3 linked regions of the Homo sapiens genome follow. The protein of the gene in region 2 interacts with the protein of the main gene of each other region in a biochemical or structural test. Each region holds a gene or a part of one and is shown on either strand. Other genes may lie near its edges.

Region 1 (3,987 bases), on a different chromosome or scaffold from region 2:
TTTGGGAGGCTGAGGCGGGAGGATCACTTGAGCCCAAGACTTCAAGACCACCCTCAGCAACATGGCAGAACCCCATTCTACAAAAAATAATAAAAATTAGCCAAGCATGGTGGTGCACGCCTGTAGTCCCAGCTACAAGGGAGGCTGAGCTGGGGAGGTCCAGGCTGCAGTGAGCTGTGATTGCACCACTGCACTCCAGCCTGGGTGAAGGGGCGAGACCCTGTCTCCCCTTAAAAAAGGAAGAAAAAGAAGAAAGGAGGGAGAGAGAACCCAGTGGTCGGTTGGGGATGGAAGTGCAGGGCTGAGAGTCTAACTGAGGTTAGAGACCTCGTGTTTCTGTTACACCAAGGTGTGTGGCTGGCCAAGACTTCTTCAATACCCGTGTGTAGGTGGACTGGTTTGGCTTCAGGTTTCATCAGATGGAAGGAGAGTAGGACTCGGGCAGGGAGGATCCTTTTGAGAATGCCGAGGTAATGGGCCAGGATAGGGAAGAAGCAGATTGATATCGAGGGGGAAAGCGGAGACAGCAATGGACAGGAAACCCAAAGATGGTGAAAAACAGATACAGCGGAAGTGACTCAAGTGGCTGGAAGTGGAAGAGATTGTGGCTGGGGACATCAAAGGAGGTGCAGATGCTGTTGATAAGGTTCCCAGTGTGGCCCCGGAGTGGGAGGCTGATGTGAAAAGAGGTCAGGGAACTGGCGCTGAAAGGGCTGTACTGAGGATGGGGGCCCTGCTCCCCGCAACTCAGATACCCTAGAAGCATCCACTCAGAGTTTAGGGTTCCGAGAATCCATCAGTCCCACAGCCTCATTTTAAAACCAGGGACACTGAGAGGGTCAGGGCCTGACCCAAGGTGAGAAACGGATTTTGAGACTAGTGGTGCTGCTCCCCGCTCCTCCATGCCCCGGCCAGGGCTCTCCCTCTCCCAGACACTCTCCCCCAGAGAGAAACAGAGGCGGTGACGCTAGGAAGAGGAGGAGAGAAGGAGGCCGCGGGTCCCTGTCGCCTCCAGGCCAGGCAATCCACTCCAGGCTCGCAATCCACCGACCTGGAGTTCACGGCCTCCGCCCTCCTGGCCCAGCGGCCCCCACCCGACCCCACCCGACCCCACCCGACCCAGGCCGGTTCCGGTCACGCCGGAAGCACGTGGCCCCCCACCCTGCGGCGTTGCCCGGGAGACCAGGGTTGTTTACCAGCAGGACAGAGCCCGGGCGCAGGCGGCGGATGGAGCGGAACGGCTAGGTGAGAGCGGCTGCCCGATCCCGCGGCCTGCCCTTGGCCTCCGCCAGGCCTGGAAGGGGCCGGGGGAGGCCAGTCCCCGAGACCCCAGCACATCACCCGGGAGGGCCTCCCCAGACCCAGCCCGGGGGACGCAAACCCCGGGAGACAGGCGAGGAGCCTGGAGAAAAGTCTGCTCCCGAGGCAAAGCAAGCCTGGCCAGAGCTCACCTTTACCAAAATAGGGTGACTCCCGGGCTCTGCAGAAACCGAGGGACCTATGCAACCGCTGGGCCATGCCCTCCAGGCTGGGATGTAGCGACGGGGACACAGACCCAGGGAGAGAAAAGGATGTCCCAGTCTCCGGCAGGGCAGAGACGAGAACCAGAGGGCCCCTCCCCCAGTCCTGTGCTCTTTCTCTGAAGTCAATTCTCGCTTTCTAAACGCTCTTTCTCGCCCCTCCCCCAGATCCCTCCTCTGCCTCTTAAGCCTGTTGCCTTCTAGGGCGCTGGAACTTGGACTTAATTGAGTTATCCCCACCACCTCCCTGCCCTTCTGACGCTGGAATCATCCCCAGTTCTCTATCCAAACATTTGATCACTTGGTGGCTTGTGGTTCAGTGTGGCACTCTGCATAGGACAGTGTATTCTAATCCCTAGTTTGGGGTAGAACTGGGAATGGTACCAGAGTTTTTTCATTCTCAGGCCAACCACCATCTCCTGTTGGTTCTTCAGAGCATTTTTATCCTGAAAGCCTGGTGGGGGTGTGGGTTGGGGGGGGCGGGATGGCAACGGATAGGATTAACTGATACAGTTTTAAAAGACCAATTCAAATGTATGTATCTTGGTATATACCAGCAGATGGTATGTAGGTGGTTATATTTTACTGCATATACTGTAGGCTTAGATTTGGGTTGTGAGTGAAATAGGGTGGTCTGACCCTGTGGTGGGTGGTGGGCACCCTTAGAAAGCAGGAGCCCTGCTTTAGCTTCTCCTATCCACATTTCCTTCTTTCCAGTTGATTTGGTGGTGAATCTTAAGGAATGGGCACCTGCCCTTCTGGCAACTTCTTGGAAACAGTTGGCAGTGTTTGCTTCCTGACTCCTAGCAGGCCGCTGGGGTGCAGCTATTGTGTTTAAGTAAACAGGCCACTCGCCTATTCAGCTTGGCAGCTTGATAGATGCCTACGCCTAGATCTTGTCAAATCGGTTTGTGGTTGAGTGGCTGCCAGGCCTAGAGGTGGTGAAGTGAACTGAGCAGGGAGAATCATGGCTGCTGCCTCAATCCTGGACTGAGGGTGGTGGGCAGAGTTCAGGACCTGAGGTGTGAATATAAAGGCACAGTTGGCCCAGATCCCCAAACACCTGTTTCCCCCACCGCCCATCCCTGTGTGATGGGTGCTGGGGAGAGCTGGTGTTCCCTCCGTGTAACAGATGGTCCCTGTGCTCGGGAGGAGGCAGTGGGTTATGAAAGCAGGTTGGATATAATGGTTTTACCTGAAGGAGGTGTTAGTCTCTAAATAACCATGAGTGGGCTCCTAGGAATTAGTCATAATTGAGGTTTTTCTCTGAGATAGCTCACAGTCATGTTATCTTATGACCAGGGTGTCTTGAATATGACACCCCCTGAACATGGATAATTATATGGAACCAAAAGGTATAGAAAGTGCATGCACATACTCAAGTTTTACTGTTAAAAATAATCCCACAGAGAGCCTGTGAGAACACATGACTCTCCTCATCAAAGTTGTTAAGGAAGAGGTTTCTAAGTTACCAAACTCACTGACAGTTAAACCTTCCTGAGGCATGTGTGGGTGTTGGAAGCCAAGCCTGTGATAATTCTGTAGAAGCTGTGGCAAATTAATAGCCATTCCACAAGTGGGGAGGGTGGGCCGAGAGGGGCGTGGGTTTGCCTGTGGAGCTTATCTTTGGCAGAACAGTTGGACAGTTATGACCTTCTCCTGCCATCCTGAGTGAAAGTGCAGAGCTGCTAATTGCCAGAGAAAGACTTGAGAAGGAGACTAAAGGGGGAAAAACACATTCTTCACAGTTGATCAGAAAATAGATGAAATTAACAAGGAGATGGGCAGTCTTTTTTGATGCCAAAAGTTTGCTAAGGAGAAGGCTCCTGAGCTACTAGCAGCCAGACTGGGTGTGAAAGACGAGGGAGAAGTGGAAAATGGGAGTGGAGAGAGACTCAGGCTGTGAGTGGAATGCAGCAGACATAGAGGCCTTTAAAAGAGGGTAGCTTTGTCCAAGATTTTGAATTGAGCAGGACATCAGGAAGATATAGGGATAATGTGTTGCGTTTGGTCCTGGTCTGAGTGGAGAGGAAGCAGATACTCCTTAAAATTAGGCAGCAGTGGTTACATGTGCAGAATGGTGAGGTTAGAATACAAACCCTGAGAGGCTCAGATTACATTGTTCAAGATTTTGTGATGAAAGGAGTGAATTTGCAGGAAGTGCAAATCATTCTGCAGGAAGTGAATCTGAGGTAAGTAAAATGTGGAATTAGAAGAGAAGTGATCAACTCGGGATTTTATTTTCACATGTTTTGAGGCAACTGCGTAGGTGGTAGCTCATTGCAGTCCACCTCCCTGCATTTCTGTGCAGTGGACAGGGCAGGCATGAGTTTCAGGACTCACCCAGCTGGTTAACCAGGAGTAGAATCACCGAGGACACACGGGGAAAAGTTCTAGAGCAAAACAAGGAAGGCTTTTGAACTTAGCACATAGGAAGCACTAAACAGACAACCCGAAGCAAACAACG
Region 2 (3,728 bases):
CTTGGCCTGATTATACCATTTTTGTTCCCTAGAATTAAAATGCTAGGTCAGGTGCAGTGCCTTTTTTTTTTTTTTTTTTTTTTTGACGGAACTTGCTCTGTTGCCCAGGCTGGAGTGCAGTGGCACAATCTCAGCTCACTGCAACCTCCACCTTCTGGGTTCAAGCGATTCTTCTACCTCAGCCTCTCGACTAGCTGGGATTACAGGCGCACACCACTATGCCTAATTTTTTTTTTTTTTTTTTTTTTTACACGGAGTCTCACACTGTCACCTAGGCTGGAGTTCAGTGACATGATCACAGCTCACTGCAGCCTCCATCTCCCAGGCTCAAGTGATCCTCCACCTGAGCTTCCCAAGTAGCTGGGACTACAAGGTGCATGCCACCAGTTCTGGCCAATTTTTGAATTTTTTGTACAGACAGGGTCTGGCCATGTTGCCCAGCATGGTCTTGACCTCCCAGATTCAAGAGATCTGCCTGCCTCCGTCCACCTCAGTCTCCCAAAGTGCAGGGATTACAGGTGTGAGCCATTGCACTCAGCCTAATTGAAATGTTTTGACTTGCTAATTCTTTAGTGTGCTTACTATGTGGTTAATAGCCACTACAATTAAATACATAATTCTGACTGTTTTGGTTTTTTTTGTTTTTTTTTTTTTGAGATGGAGTGTAGCTCTGTTGCCCAGGCTGGAGTACAGTGGCGTGATCCCGGCTCACTGCAACCTCTGCCTCCTGGATTCAAGTGAATTCTGCCTCAGCCTCCCCAGTAGCTGGAATTACAGGCACCTGCCACCATGCCCAGCTAATTTTTGTATTTTTAGTAGAGATGGGGTTTCACTGTGTTGGCCAGGCTAGTCTCTAACTCCTGACCTTGTGATCCACCCACCTCAGCCTCCCAAAGTGCTGGGATTACAGGTGTGAGCCACCGCGCCCAGGCCTGACTGTTTTATTCTTTTAATTTACTTAGAAAAATTAAATGTCCAAGTCAGATCTGGCTAAAATTTTGTTTTGTTTTGTTTTGTTTTGTTTTTGAGATGGAGTCTCACTCTGTCACCCAGGCTGGAGTCCAGTGGTGCGATCTCGGCTCACTGCAACCTCCACCTCCTGGGTTCAAGTGATTCTCCTGTCTCAGCCCCTGGAGTAGCCAGGACTACAGGTGCATGCCACCAAGCCCAGCTAATTTTTTGTATTTTTAGTAGAGACGGGGTTTCACCATGTTGGCCAGGCTGGTCTCGACCTCCTGACCTCAGATGATGCACCCGCCTCAGCCTCCCAAAGTGCTTCAATTACAGATGTGAGCCACCGTGCCCGGCCTAATCTGGCTAAAATTTAATGTCACAGAATTAGGGTTAGGGTTAGAGAGAACTCTAATCTTTCAAAGGATGGATACACTGAAAACCATGGTTTTTGTTTTGATATGTTGAGGAACTATATGCTTCTGTCAGATTTATTCAGTTTTATTACATTTTGGAAAGATTTAGATTAATGATTAGGATAAATGATAGTTATCGAAGAATCACAGATTATTAGCACAGGAAGGGTGTTATCCCTGTCAACTGTCAGCTGGGTTCATGAATCATTGTAATAAATCCCTGGTGCATATTTGTTCACATTTGCTTTATCACTTTCAGTGACTTGAAGTCACAACGTAGGTGAGGGGATAACTTCAGATTTTTAGAAAGCATCTTTGTGGTAATGTATAAATATTTCATGTAAAATACTTTAGGATAATTTAGACATAGATGATTAAATCTATATAAGTAATCAAACTGTGTAATTATATGTCATGAAATGTAAATTGTTTCTAAAGGTAATCATAACAAGCTCCCCATAACATTAATGAAACTGTTTTGCCCATCAGAGACTTAATGTTAAGAACTGTAAATTCCAGATGGGTGCCATGGCTCACGTCTGTAATCCCAGCACTTTGGGAGGCCAAGGTGGGAGGATCACTTGAGCCCAGGAATTCAAAATCAGTCTGGGCAACATAGCAAGACCCCATCTCTTAAAAAAAAAATTAGTCTAGGTGAAACTGAGACCTTGTCTTTAAAAAAAAAGAACCATAAATTCAAAGCTGGTTTGGCCAGACGTCACTTAGTTTGTGTACTTATAGGGAAAGTTTTAACTTTTTTTTTTTGCTTTCATGCTATTTTAGATAAATGAAATAAACACAGAAATTAACCAGTTGATTGAAAAGAAAATGATGAGAAATGAGCCCATTGAAGGCAAACTCTCACTGTATAGGCAACAGGTAAGAACATTCTTTTGGCTCACATATTTAGATCTGTAAGCATATTCATGAACCACTGGCTGTGTTATCTATAGTCTTAAAGTGAGAAGGAAGTAGAGAATAAATGTTGTTCTGTCACTGCTAATCTCCATAGTATATCAAAGAATTAGTGGAAAAGCCACAAAAGATGCTTATTCAAGTTTGAAATTACGATACCCCTAATAATGCTTAGTTTCCTTAGCATGTACGAACTGTGGTAATAGAGCTATTTGTGTTTGTATCTGTGACTGTGGAATTTATTTTTAAAATGAAAACTTACCTTAGGTGGTATAAATAAAAATATTTATAATTTTTAATGAGTTAATAACAGTATGCTTTTTCAAGTTTAAAGTTAGTTTGCAAGTGTAGAATAAATTAAATTTTAGTGCTAAAGCATTTATTATTTTATCCACAACTAAATTGTCACTTAGTTTTTGAGGGTACTTATCTTGTTGTATATTTCTATAAAAGATTCAAATGAAGGCCATGGCTTATCTGAAAAGAACCAAGGCAGGAGGATTTTAGTGTGAAGAGCACTCTACAACCTCAGAAAATACTAAGCTACATAACAAAGCATTATTTAAGGACATTAGAATTTTTTAAAACCTTTATAACGGAAAATTTCAATCAATTACAAAGGTAGAGGCAAATTGTTCAATAAACCCTCATGTGTCCCTGAGCTACAGGGCTCATGGCCATTCTTGTTTCCTCTATACTGCCAACCCCAACTATATTATTTTGAAGCATATCTTAGACTTCATCATAACATTTCATCTATAAATGTTTCAGAATATATATCTAAAAGATAAAGGCTTTTTAACTTAACCACAACATACCACATCTGAAAATTTTAATAATTCCTTAATATCAGAAAATATTCAGTCAGCCAGGAAATCAATGACATTCCCTTGTCTCTCTTTTTTTCAATTAAGATCCATATAGGATTCATATATTGCATTTGGCTGATAAGTTATTTATTTATTTATTTATTTTTTGCTGTCACCTATCTGTCCCAGAAAGTTTGTCTCTTTTAATCCATATGTTCTCTTCCCATCGATTTATCTATTTAGTGCTTTTTGGCAATATATGTGTTGACAAAACTGGTTCATTTTTCCCATGATATTTCTAACAGTTTGTGTTTTACTGATTGCAACCCTATGGTGTTGTTTTACCATGTTCATTTGTTTCCCGTATTTCCTATAAATTAGAACTAGGAGCTTGAACAGATCTGGTTTGATTTTTTTTTGGCAAGAAAACTTTCTAGGTGGTATTACATACTTTTATTTGGAAGTGATAATGCTCGGTTGTCTGAGCAGCCACTTACTATTATTGCTCATTGCTTATCCATTAATTTTATTATAAATTATAAAATATTCATATTTTGATTCCTTCTTCATTTATTAGCTGGACTACTTTTTTTTTTTCTTTTGAGATGGAGTCTCACTGTCACCCAGGCTAGAGTGC
Region 3 (3,728 bases), on a different chromosome or scaffold from region 2:
ATGGATTAAAGACTTAAATGTTAGAACTGAAATCATAAAAACCCTAGAAGAAAACCTAGGCAATAGCATTTAGTACATAAGCATGGGCAAAGACCTCATGACTAAAACACCAAAAGCAATGGCAACAAAAGCCAAAATTGACAGATGGGACCTAATTAAACTAAAGAGCTTCTGCACAGCAAAAGAAACTATCAGCAGAGTGAACAGGCAACCTACAGAATGGGAGAAAATTTTTGCAATCTACCCATCTGACAAAGGGCTAATATCCAGAATCTACAAAGAAGTTAAACAAATTTACAAGAAAAAAGCAAACAACCCCATCAAAAAGTGGGCAAAGGATATGAACAGACACTTTTCAAAAGAAGACATTTATGCTGCCAACAGACATATGAAAAAATGCTCATCATTGCTGGTCATTAGAGAAATACAAATCAAAACCACAATGAGATACCAGCTCATGCCAGTTAGAATGGCGATCATTAAAAAGTCAGGAAACAACAGATGCTGGAGAGGATGTGGAGAAATAGGAACACTTTTACACTGTTGGTGGGAGTGTAAATTAGTTCAACCATTGTGGATGACAGTGTGGTGATTCCTCAAGGATCTAGAACTAGAAATACCATTTGACCCAGTGATCCCATTACTGGGTATATACCCAAAAGATTATAAATCATGCTACTATAAAGACACATGCACGCGTATGTTTATTGTGGCACTATTCACAATAGCAAAGACTTGGAACCAACCCAAATGTCCATCAGTAATAGACTGGATAAAGAAAACGTGTCACATATACATCATGGAATACTATGCAGCCATAAAAAAGGATGAGTTCATGTCCTTTGCAAGGACATGGATGAAGCTGGAAACCATCATTCTCAGCAAACTATCACCAGGATAGAAAACCACACACCACATGTTCTCACTCATAAGTGGGAGTTGAACAACGAGGACACATGGACACAGGGAGGAGAACATCACACACCGGGGCCTATCTGGATGGAGGGCTGAGGGAGGGATAGCATTAGGAGAAATACCTAATGTAAATGAAGAGTTGATAGGTGTAGCAAACTAACACGGTACATGTATACCTATGTAACAAATCTGCACATTGTGCACATGAACCCCAGAACTTAAAGTATAAAAGAAAAAAAATTAGGCCATTTTCAAGTTTTTCTTGAATTTTAATTTCTGCTAGGCCCTCTTTATCTCCCCATGATGTGCATGTAGCCCTTTCAGTAAGGAGTGTATGGGGAGCTTGGGCCCTCTGTGGCCTTCCATTTATTTGCATGTAGCCTCCTAGTCAACTAGGGTTGTACGGGGAGCCTATGTAGTCCCTCTTTGGTTCTCTCATTTCCAAATCTCCTGGTGACATATCTGGCTGGTCCACTGATCTGTCCTTCACCCGAACCACGACTGAAGCTTCAGACTAGCAGAGCTGTGGGATCTTCCCATTCGTTTCCTATCAAATTTGCTCATTTTACTGGCAACACTGCTGAGTGTGGGCTTTTGCCCACTGCCTCAAATCAGGTCTGTCCCCTCTGGAAGTGAAACTGCTGGCTTTTGCAGCCTTCACCCTGTACCAACTGAGCTATGTAAAGGGACATTCGAACAGTCCCAGACAGTGAAGCTGCTATCTCCTACTTTCTTAGCTAACATATAGCAGCTGTTCATAGATCAGTACTTCTCACTTTGTTTGCCTTTGGTTCATTTCCAGATTTCCACCAAAATGATTGTTTTTGACAATGTTGTTCAGTTTTATAGTAGCTTTTTGAGAGAGGATTTTCTGACCATATCAGTGTAGTATAACCAGAAATCCCATATTTCAAATCTTTTGAAAATTTTTAACCATTTAGTATTAATATTGAAATGTCTTAATTTGGTATATAATGTCAAGATGCCCAGTGATATTTAGGATTTTAATTTCTTAATCTCAGCAATATAAAATATATTATGCTCTTAATATTAATTATAATGTTTATTCTTAAACATTTTATTTAGGAAATTATGATGTGATGACCCCAATGGTTGATATACTTATGAAACTTTTTCGAAATATGGTGAATGTGAAGATGCCATTTCACCTTACCCTTCTAAGTGTGTGCTTCTGCAACCTTAAAGCACTAAATACTGCTAAGAAAGGGCTTATTGATTATTATTTAATGCCATCATTATCAACTACTTCACGCTCTGGCAAGCACAGTTTTGTAAGTACACTCTTTTTTGTTCAGTTTTCTAAGTATACTCTTATGGGATTTGTGTGGTTACATTACAAATCTAAGTGCTTGTCTTTTTGATATAGTTTAGAGATTCTTTTGGGTGATATTGTTTAGGTGATTAACTTGTTTATAATACCTATCTTATGGTTTCTGGCCTTAAATATGCTGTGATCTAAGAAGAAAACATAAGCATCACTGGATAAAAGAGAGAACCATTATGGAGGTTCTCTATTTTGGAATTGTTAACACATTTTATAGTATATAAAAATATGATGGATTAGCTCATAAGTATTAAAATATTTGCAGATATTAGAAATCACATCTTTTTGTCTTTTAGCTGACACATGAGCTACTAGTACCTTTCCCATGATTCTTTTGTTAAAGTATTTACATTTTCTTCATTTTGAAATAGTATTGAATTTTGATAGCAATATTGATAGATTTGACTACTGATTTCATAGTTGTAAAGTTAACAGTGTGGCAATAGAAAGGCAGAGGCCAGTCACATTTTCAGACGACTAAAACAAAACCCTTTTATTAATAGACAAACCACTATTTAGTAAATGTGGGTTGCCTTAAAAACAATTATTTTTTACTAAATTGTTCATGCCTATAATTAACTCAATTTAAAATACTTTTGTGTTTGTTTAGTCAGTATAATTTTAGTAACCTTTTCATTTTCATTTAAGTTTAAAGTGAGAACAGGATAGTGTATGGAAATAGTGAATTAATGCTCTCTTCAAATTACTTTTTTCTGTGACCCTTCTTATTCCATTTATTAAATTTAAAAAAGTGTTTTCTTTTTACATTTTAATTAATCTGTGAAATTGGAATTAAAAGTGCTCATTTATAGTGGCATTAGAAAAGTAAATATAAGTGAAAGTACCTTGTATGTATTTGTCACACAGTAGGTAGTCAATAAATATAAGGGCCTGAATCTTTTCTACTACTTTTACTTTTTTGGAGTTCATATTGTGTTGATGTTTACGGAGTTATATTTGACTATGTTTATATTTTTATGGTGCTTGAAACTAAAGGATTTAAATGAAAAACTGTATAGAAAAATTATGCAAGTTAGAGTTGAAAGTGTCTTTAAATTTTTATTTTATATAAATATAAACTAGTACTATATCTTGATGATGTTGGGTTTTGTTATAGGCTTTTTTTTTCTTTTTGTTAAAAGTTACCCTTTAGAATAGTAATTTTTGGAAAACTAGCCCTTGATGCTATATGTGTATGTTTTTTTGAAAAATACCCTTAGGTGAACTTGCTTTTCTAGGCCGCCATTCTTTTATTTATAGAATTGAAAGTTTGGTTGCATGATTGTTACAATCTTCCCAGGTCTCCAAATGCATATTTACCTCTGTCTCAGTGCTATCTAGGAAGGAAACCTCTTCCTGGAATAGTGGGTAGAGATTCACAAAATAGTGTGAATAATTGTGGTAGTAGATCTCTAGTTGTTTGGAACTGGCCACAAAGAGTTGTATTTGTTGAGTAGGTTAGAAACAT

The links.
Region 1: the proteins of IFT81 (region 2) and UBXN10 form a complex in vitro, tested with the Homo sapiens proteins (one study listed by BioGRID).
Region 3: the proteins of IFT81 (region 2) and POLI form a complex in vitro, tested with the Homo sapiens proteins (one large-scale study listed by BioGRID).

The regions. Positions count from the first base shown.
Region 1 is NC_000001.11:20,184,909-20,188,895, forward strand, and holds the start of UBXN10 (UBX domain-containing protein 10), read left to right. Parts: upstream 1-1,187; 5' UTR 1,188-1,245; exon of another isoform or gene 1,246-3,712; intron 3,713-3,987. UniProt on the Homo sapiens protein: VCP/p97-binding protein required for ciliogenesis. Acts as a tethering factor that facilitates recruitment of VCP/p97 to the intraflagellar transport complex B (IFT-B) in cilia.
Region 2 is NC_000012.12:110,144,803-110,148,530, forward strand, and holds part of IFT81 (intraflagellar transport protein 81 homolog), read left to right. Parts: intron 1-2,150; coding exon 2,151-2,246; intron 2,247-3,728. UniProt on the Homo sapiens protein: Component of the intraflagellar transport (IFT) complex B: together with IFT74, forms a tubulin-binding module that specifically mediates transport of tubulin within the cilium. Binds tubulin via its CH (calponin-homology)-like region.
Region 3 is NC_000018.10:54,289,832-54,293,559, forward strand, and holds part of POLI (DNA polymerase iota isoform a (long)), read left to right. Parts: intron 1-2,001; coding exon 2,002-2,207; intron 2,208-3,728. UniProt on the Homo sapiens protein: Error-prone DNA polymerase specifically involved in DNA repair. Plays an important role in translesion synthesis, where the normal high-fidelity DNA polymerases cannot proceed and DNA synthesis stalls. Favors Hoogsteen base-pairing in the active site.